2 linked regions of the Homo sapiens genome follow. The protein of the gene in region 1 purifies or fractionates together with the protein of each later gene. This does not show direct contact. Each region holds a gene or a part of one and is shown on either strand. Other genes may lie near its edges.

Region 1 (3,823 bases):
TAAATAAGATCCAGAAATGTTTATTGGTAATGTAGCTCGTTCTCACTGAGGTTGCTCAGCAACGCTTCCAATGACTTCTGTTGTGCAACAAGTAGTACTCTACTAATGCATGCACGATTTTATTGTAATTTGCAATAATGACTTAAATACATGTTCATGTCCAGGATTTTCCAAAATACAATCAGATGCAATCAAGTGAAGTTAATGACATTTACGTAATACATAAACTGACAAAACTGCCTGAAAAGAGTTATCTATGGAAGTATTGCTACATTATCTTTGTTTAATTCGATGCCCAGGAAACCAGTCCTAAATTTAAATGATGCCTAGATAGATGAAGCTATAAAGTATTTATTCTCTGTCGACCTATAAGAAATCACCAAGTGGCCAGAAAACTCCTGCAAACCTTCACTAAACTAGAATTTCATTTTCCTTTAACATGAGGGCATTAAAATTAAGAAGTCTGAGAACCGACTGCAGTCACTGCAGTTGAAGGCATGAAGACATGATTAGTCTTTGAGGTATACTTCCTCTCATGGGGTCAAAACAATGAGGTCAGAAACTTGGAGAGTTTAATATTTATTTATTTATTTTTATTTTATTATTTTTTTCAAGCCAGAGTCTCGCTCTGTTGCCCAGGCTGGAGTGTAGTAGTGTGATCTCGGCTCACTGCAACCTCCGCAACCTCCGCCTCCTGGGTTCAAGCGATTCTCCTGTCTCAGCCTCCCGAGTAGCTGGGATTACAGGCATGCACCACCACGCCCAGCTAATTTTTGTATTTTTAGTAGAGATGGAGTCTTGCCGTGATGGCCAGGCTGGTCCCGAACTCCTGACCTCAAGTGATCCACTCGCCTCGGCCTCCCAAAGTGTCAAGATTACAGGCGTGAGCCACCACGCCCAGCCAATTATTTATTTATTTTTCAGATAGGGTCTTGCTCTGTCACCCAGGCTGGAGTGCAGTAACACAATCTTGGCTCACTGTAGCCTCTATCTCCTGGGCTCAGGGATCCTCCCACCTCGGCCTCCTGAGTATCCAGGACCACAGATGCACACCACCACACCAGGCTCGTTTTTTTAATTTTTAGTAGAGAGGAGGTCTTGCTATGTTGCCCATGCTGGTCTGGAACTCCTGGGCTCAAGTGATCCTCCTGCCTCAGCTTCCCAACGAGTTGGGACTATAGCTAGCATACCCAGCTGGATATTTCAGATGGTAGTTTTTCTGTGACCTTTCAAGAATAAACTTTTTTTTTCCCTTGAGATGGAGTCTGGCTCTGTTGTCCAGGCTGGAGGGCAGTGGCGAGATCTCGGCTCACTGCAACCCCCGCCTCCTGGGTTCAAGCAATTCTCCTGCCTCAGTGTGTGCCACCACACCCAGCTAATTTTTGTATTTTATTTTTTTGTTTTTGTTTGAGACGGAGTCTAGTCCTGTCACCCAGGCTGGAGTGCAATGGCGCGATCTCGGCTCACTGCAACCTCCGCCTCCCAGGTTCAAATGATTCTCCTGCCTCAGCCTCCTCAGTAGCTGGGATTACAGGCGCCCGCCACCATGCCCAGCTATTTTTTTGTATTTTTAGTAGAGACGGGGGTTTTACCACGTTGGCCAGGCTGGTCTCGAACTCCTGACCTCATGATCCGCCCACCTCAGCCTCCCAAAGTGCTGGGATTACAGATGTGAGCTACTACGCCCTGCTCAGCTATACACTTTCAATAGTATAACTGTTAATACAGCAAAAAGCCAAAAGGTAGCTAAACTTGTAGATACATTTTGAGACGTGATTGCTACAAAAGTTCTCCTCATTCTTAAACGTTTTTATAAAACTCTTCCAATATACAAGACAGTATGTTATAAACAAAGCTGAATTAAATTCATTATTTGTCAAATTAAAAGACAAACTGTCTAGTAAAAGGAGGTCACAGGCCAGGCGCAGTGGTTCATGCCTGTAATCCCAGCACTTTGGGAGGCCGAGACGGGCAGATCACGAGTTCAGGAGATCGAGACCATCCTGGCTAACACAGTGAAACCCCATCTCTACTAAAAATACAAAGAATTAGCTGGGCATGGTGGCGGGCGCCTGTACTCCCAGCTACTGGGGAGGCTGAGGCAGAAGAATGCCGTGAACCCAGGAGGCGGAGCTTGCAGTGAGCCGAGATCGCGCCACTGCACTCCAGCCAAGGGCAACAGAGCGAGACTCGGTCTCAGAAAAAAAAAAAGAGGTCATGTGGTTCTTGTATTGGAAGAATAATAATACATATACATTATCGTTTTACTAAGTGCTAAGCAAATACTTGGAGCTGTACAATAAAGGAACTTCTGACATAACTGTTTTCTAAAAGGACTGGATTCCTAAGTCCAGCACAAGTGCCTGCTACACCAATTTGCTGAAAGGATTATTCCAAAGTTTCCCTTAAAGCAAGATTATTCAAGAGTTTAGAAAAAAAAAATCAACAAAATTATCCTTTAAACTATGTTATGAATAATCCTCTTGGTTTAGGAAAAGGAGGGCTCAAACTCTAAGAACTTTAATTTCAGCACAAGAATGAAGGGCAAGAAAGGGAAACCAATGGCAACATAATTTTTTGCTTTTAGTGTATTCAACTGTGTTTGCCAAGATTACTGTTATGGTGAGTGAGACTCAATTATCACACAAGTGTCTCTGGATTATTGCAAAGACTACAGCATGTTACCTAATTTCAAATAACATCAGGTATAAAACTATACAAAATTAATTAATGTATAAGAAAGTCCAGGTGAGGTGGCTCACACCTTCTCAGGCTCACGCCTTCCCATGCCACTGTACACCAGCCTGGGTGACAGAGCAAGATCCTGTCTCTTGCTCTGTCCAACCAACCTGGGTGACAAAAATAAATTTAAAAAAAAAATTAAAAATAAAAATAAAAGTGGCTGGGCGCGGTGGCTCACACCTGTAATCCCAGCACTTTGGGAGGCCGAGGCGGGCAGATCACGAGGTCAGGAGTTCAAGACCAGCCTGACCAACATGGTGAAACCCCATCTCTACTAAAAATACAACTAAATAAATAAATAAAAGTTTAAAAAGGTAAAAAATTTGACAGGCAGACGGGAACAGTGGCTCACGCCTGTAATCCCAGCAGTTTGGGAGGCCAAGGTGGGCGGATCACGAGGTTAGGAGTTCGAGATCAGCCTGGCCAACACAGTGAAACCCTGTCTCTACTAAAAATACAAAAATTAGCCAGCCATGGTGGCGTGTGCCTGCAGTCCCAGCTACTTAGGAAGCTGAAGCAGGAGAATTGCTTAAACCCGGGAGGTGGAGGTTGCAGTAAACTGAGATCACGCCACTGCACTCCAGCTTGGGCAACAGAGTGAGACTTTGTCTCCAAAAAAAAAAAAAAGAAAAAATTGACAGGCAAAAACTTACAAATATTCAAAAGGGGTCTATCTCTGTATTCAAAATGGGATCAATTATTATCAATGATCAATTATTATTCCACTCCGTATGTCCATGTGTACCCACTGTTTACCTCCCAAGCAGCTCAAATTTTCATTTAAAATCAAAATCAAAATGCTCCCGCCCCCTAACTCCCAAGGGCAATAAATGAATTCACCTTATGGGGGTGGAGGGAAGCAGGTATGGTGGTATGTGCCTGTAGTCCCAGCTACTCAGGAGGCTAAGGCAGGACTGCTTGAGCCCAGGAATTCAAGTCCACCTGGTTAACACAGAGAGATCACGTCTCTCTTTTTTTTTTTTTTTGGACCGAGTCTCACTCTGTCACCCAGGTTGGAGTGCAGTGGCACAATCTCTGCTCACTGCAACCTCTGCCTCCTGGGTTCAAGCGATTCTCCTGC
Region 2 (3,071 bases), on another chromosome or scaffold:
AATGGGAAACAGTGAGTGGGTGCCTTCACTCTTCCCCTCTGCCTTCTTCAAGAGCCTCTATCTCATATCCTGCCAGGCGTGTGGCAGCCTTGGAAGCCAAGCAAAAGCCCAGCACTTCCCAGAGCCAGGGACTGACACGACAAGACCAGATGATTGCTGAGCGCCTAGCACGACTCCGCCAGGAGAACAAGCCCAGTGAGCAGGGGCAGATGGGGTTGCCTAGAGGACACAGTCCAGGGCTTCTGGGACTGAGATGCCTCTGGCCCTTACAAGGCTCCCCCCATGCCAATTGCAGAGTTAGTCCCCTCACAGGCAGAGATAGAGGCACGGCTGGCTGCCCTAAAGGATGAACGTCAGGGTTCCATCCCTTCCACCCAGGAAATGGAGGCACGACTTGCAGCGTTGCAGGGCAGAGTTCTACCTTCTCAAACCCCCCAGCCGGTGAGTGTTATGGCTTAGGAGAGAAGCGGGGGTGCTAGCGGGAGGACCCAGCAGAAGCCCAGATACAGGTATTGGGGTGATACAAAAGTAATTGTGGTTTTTGTCATTACTTTTAATTGCAAAAACCTCAGTTACTTTTGCACCAACCTTTGTACTTTATGTACTTTGCAGGAGTTGGCAAAGCCTCCCACCCCTACCTCCTGATCCTCAGGCCTGCTACCAGACCCGGGGACCAGGGACAAACAGCACGATAGGGTAGGGCAGGAAAAAGTGGCCCCTCAGTCCTGTTGGGGACGGCCAGACCTACTTGATTATGTGGGCCCTGGATCCCTCTCCTTTCCCTGGGCTTTGAGAACTACTTAGCATCCATCCCTGACCTAGACTGCTTCTGGGCTACCCCTGCTCTCCACTGAGGTTTCCTCGTCTGTGCAGGCACATCACACACCGGACACCAGGACCCAAGCCCAGCAGACACAGGATCTGCTAACGCAGCTGGCAGCTGAGGTGGCTATCGATGAAAGCTGGAAAGGAGGAGGCCCAGGTAACCCCTCCACTTGGCTCCCTAGGAATCTGCCCTACCTCTTTCCCCAGACTGGAGAGGCTCTGCTGTCCACCCTCTGGGAGATGAATATAAATCGGAGAGTGATCAACGTTATAAGAGTTACCATTCATTGAGTGCTTACTCCAAAGGGAGCCAGTGTAAGCCTAGTGTTTAAGTGCACGGGCTTTAGAATCAGACAGTGATTCCCATTTCTACCACGTATTAGCTGTGTGATGCTGGACAAGTTACTTGACCTAAGTCTCACTTTCCTCATGTGTAAAATGAAGGTATGTATGGAAAAACCTACCTCACAGGGAAATCAGGAGGAGTAAACGAGATAATCCAATAAGTGCTTGGGAACATACCTGACTCATAGTGAGTACTCAGTGAATATTCTCTGCAATCATGATGTTGATAAGGAGGAAGAAGCTATTTAGTAAAACCAGCCACATCTCAATGCTCAGTAGCCATATGGGCTTCATGGCTACCATCTTGGACAGCACAGATATAGAACATGATATGGAATGTTTCCATCATCATAGAACATTCTGTTGGACAGTGCTGTTTGAAGGCTTCAGAGCAGTGGTTTTCAACAAAGGATGATTTTGCCCCCAGGCTACTTGTGGCAACATTTAGAGACTTTTTGGTTGTCACAACCCAGAGGATATTACTGGCACCTACAGGATAGAAGCCAGGGATGCTACTAAATCTACTATGTCACAGGACAGCACATCATGATGAAGAATTACCCGGTCCAAAGTGTCAAGAGAACTAAGATTGAGAAGTCCTGCTTTAGAGGCACAATCTCATTGAATATCCTCAATAATCTTATGAGGCCAGGTGTGGCTCACGCCTGTAATCCTAAGCACTTAAGGAGGCAGAGGCAGGAGGGAGGATAGCTTGAGCTGGGGAATTTAAGACCTGCCTGGGCAACATAGCAAGACTCTGTTTAAAAAAAAAATCTTATAAGGTACATACTATTCTTTTTTATAAATGAGGAAACAGGCCTGGTGAGCTTGAGGAACTTGACCAAGGTCACACAGCTATTAAGCTGCAGAGATGAGACTTAAACCTAAAGCTGTGATTTTAAACCTCTTGCTCTGAAACACTAAACTGAAGGTGACTGTGTCAGAGCCACACCTAATCTGGTAAAATTCTTCCTGCCCAGTGATATACAAGCTCTTAGCTTCCTTCATTGCCCTCTCTGTGCTAATCCCAGGAGATGCTAATTCCTGCCCTGAAAGGCAAAGAGATCGGCTGAACCTGGGCCTTATCATGTCTTGATCCTTTAGGGCAGTGATTCTCAAACCATAGGACGCCCACCCTTAGGGCAGAATGTTAAAATATCAGGTAGATGGGGATGGATGTGGTTGGAAAAGACATGGGTAAAATTATTAGTTTTTTACATTTGGAAAAATGGAGGAATACTAATTTTATTTGTGATAGAAACCATAGGCGCTAGTGCTGAGCAAAAAGCTGATGATCTGTGATTAGAAAGGGTTGAGAAAAGCTGGGCATGATGGCTCACGCCTGTAATCCCAGCACTTTGGGAGGCTGAGGCGGGTGGATCACGAGGTCAGGAGTTGGAGACCAGCCTGACCAACATGTTGAAACCCCGTCTCTACTAAAAATACAAAAATTAGCCGGGCATGGTGTCACGTGCCTGTAATCCCAGTTACTCAGGAGGCTGAGGCAGGAGAATCGCTTGAATCCAGGAGGCAGAGGTTGCAGTGAGCTGAGATTGCACCACTGCACTCCGGCCTGGGTGACAGAGCGAGACTCCATCTCAAAAAAAAAAAAAAAGAAAGAAAGAAAGAAAGAAAGAAAGAAAGAAAAAATTATTAAAGAAAAAGAAAAGAAAAGGTTGAGAAATGGGCTCATTGGCTTCTGAGGAGAGATACTGGGATGTCTCGGCCTTGCTGATGGCATTACCCCTTCCAGCTGCCTCTCTCCAGAATGATCTCAACCAGGGTGGCCCAGGGAGCACTAATTCCAAGAGGCAGGCCAACTGGTCCTTGGAGGAGGAGAAGAGCAGACTGCTGGCTGAGGCAGCACTTGAGTTGCGGGAGGAGAACACGAGGCAGGAACG

What was found.
Region 2: the proteins of UNK (region 1) and ZFYVE19 fractionate together in Homo sapiens (co-fractionation; one large-scale study listed by BioGRID). This does not show direct contact.

What each region holds. Positions count from the first base shown.
Region 1 is NC_000017.11:75,787,729-75,791,551, reverse strand, and holds part of UNK (RING finger protein unkempt homolog), read right to left. Parts: intron 766-3,823; exon of another isoform or gene 1-765. UniProt on the Homo sapiens protein: Sequence-specific RNA-binding protein which plays an important role in the establishment and maintenance of the early morphology of cortical neurons during embryonic development.
Region 2 is NC_000015.10:40,809,776-40,812,846, forward strand, and holds part of ZFYVE19 (abscission/NoCut checkpoint regulator), read left to right. Parts: intron 1-76; coding exon 77-195; intron 196-295; coding exon 296-441; intron 442-612; coding exon of another isoform or gene 613-695; exon of another isoform or gene 696-696; intron 697-873; coding exon 874-982; intron 983-2,923; coding exon 2,924-3,071. UniProt on the Homo sapiens protein: Key regulator of abscission step in cytokinesis: part of the cytokinesis checkpoint, a process required to delay abscission to prevent both premature resolution of intercellular chromosome bridges and accumulation of DNA damage.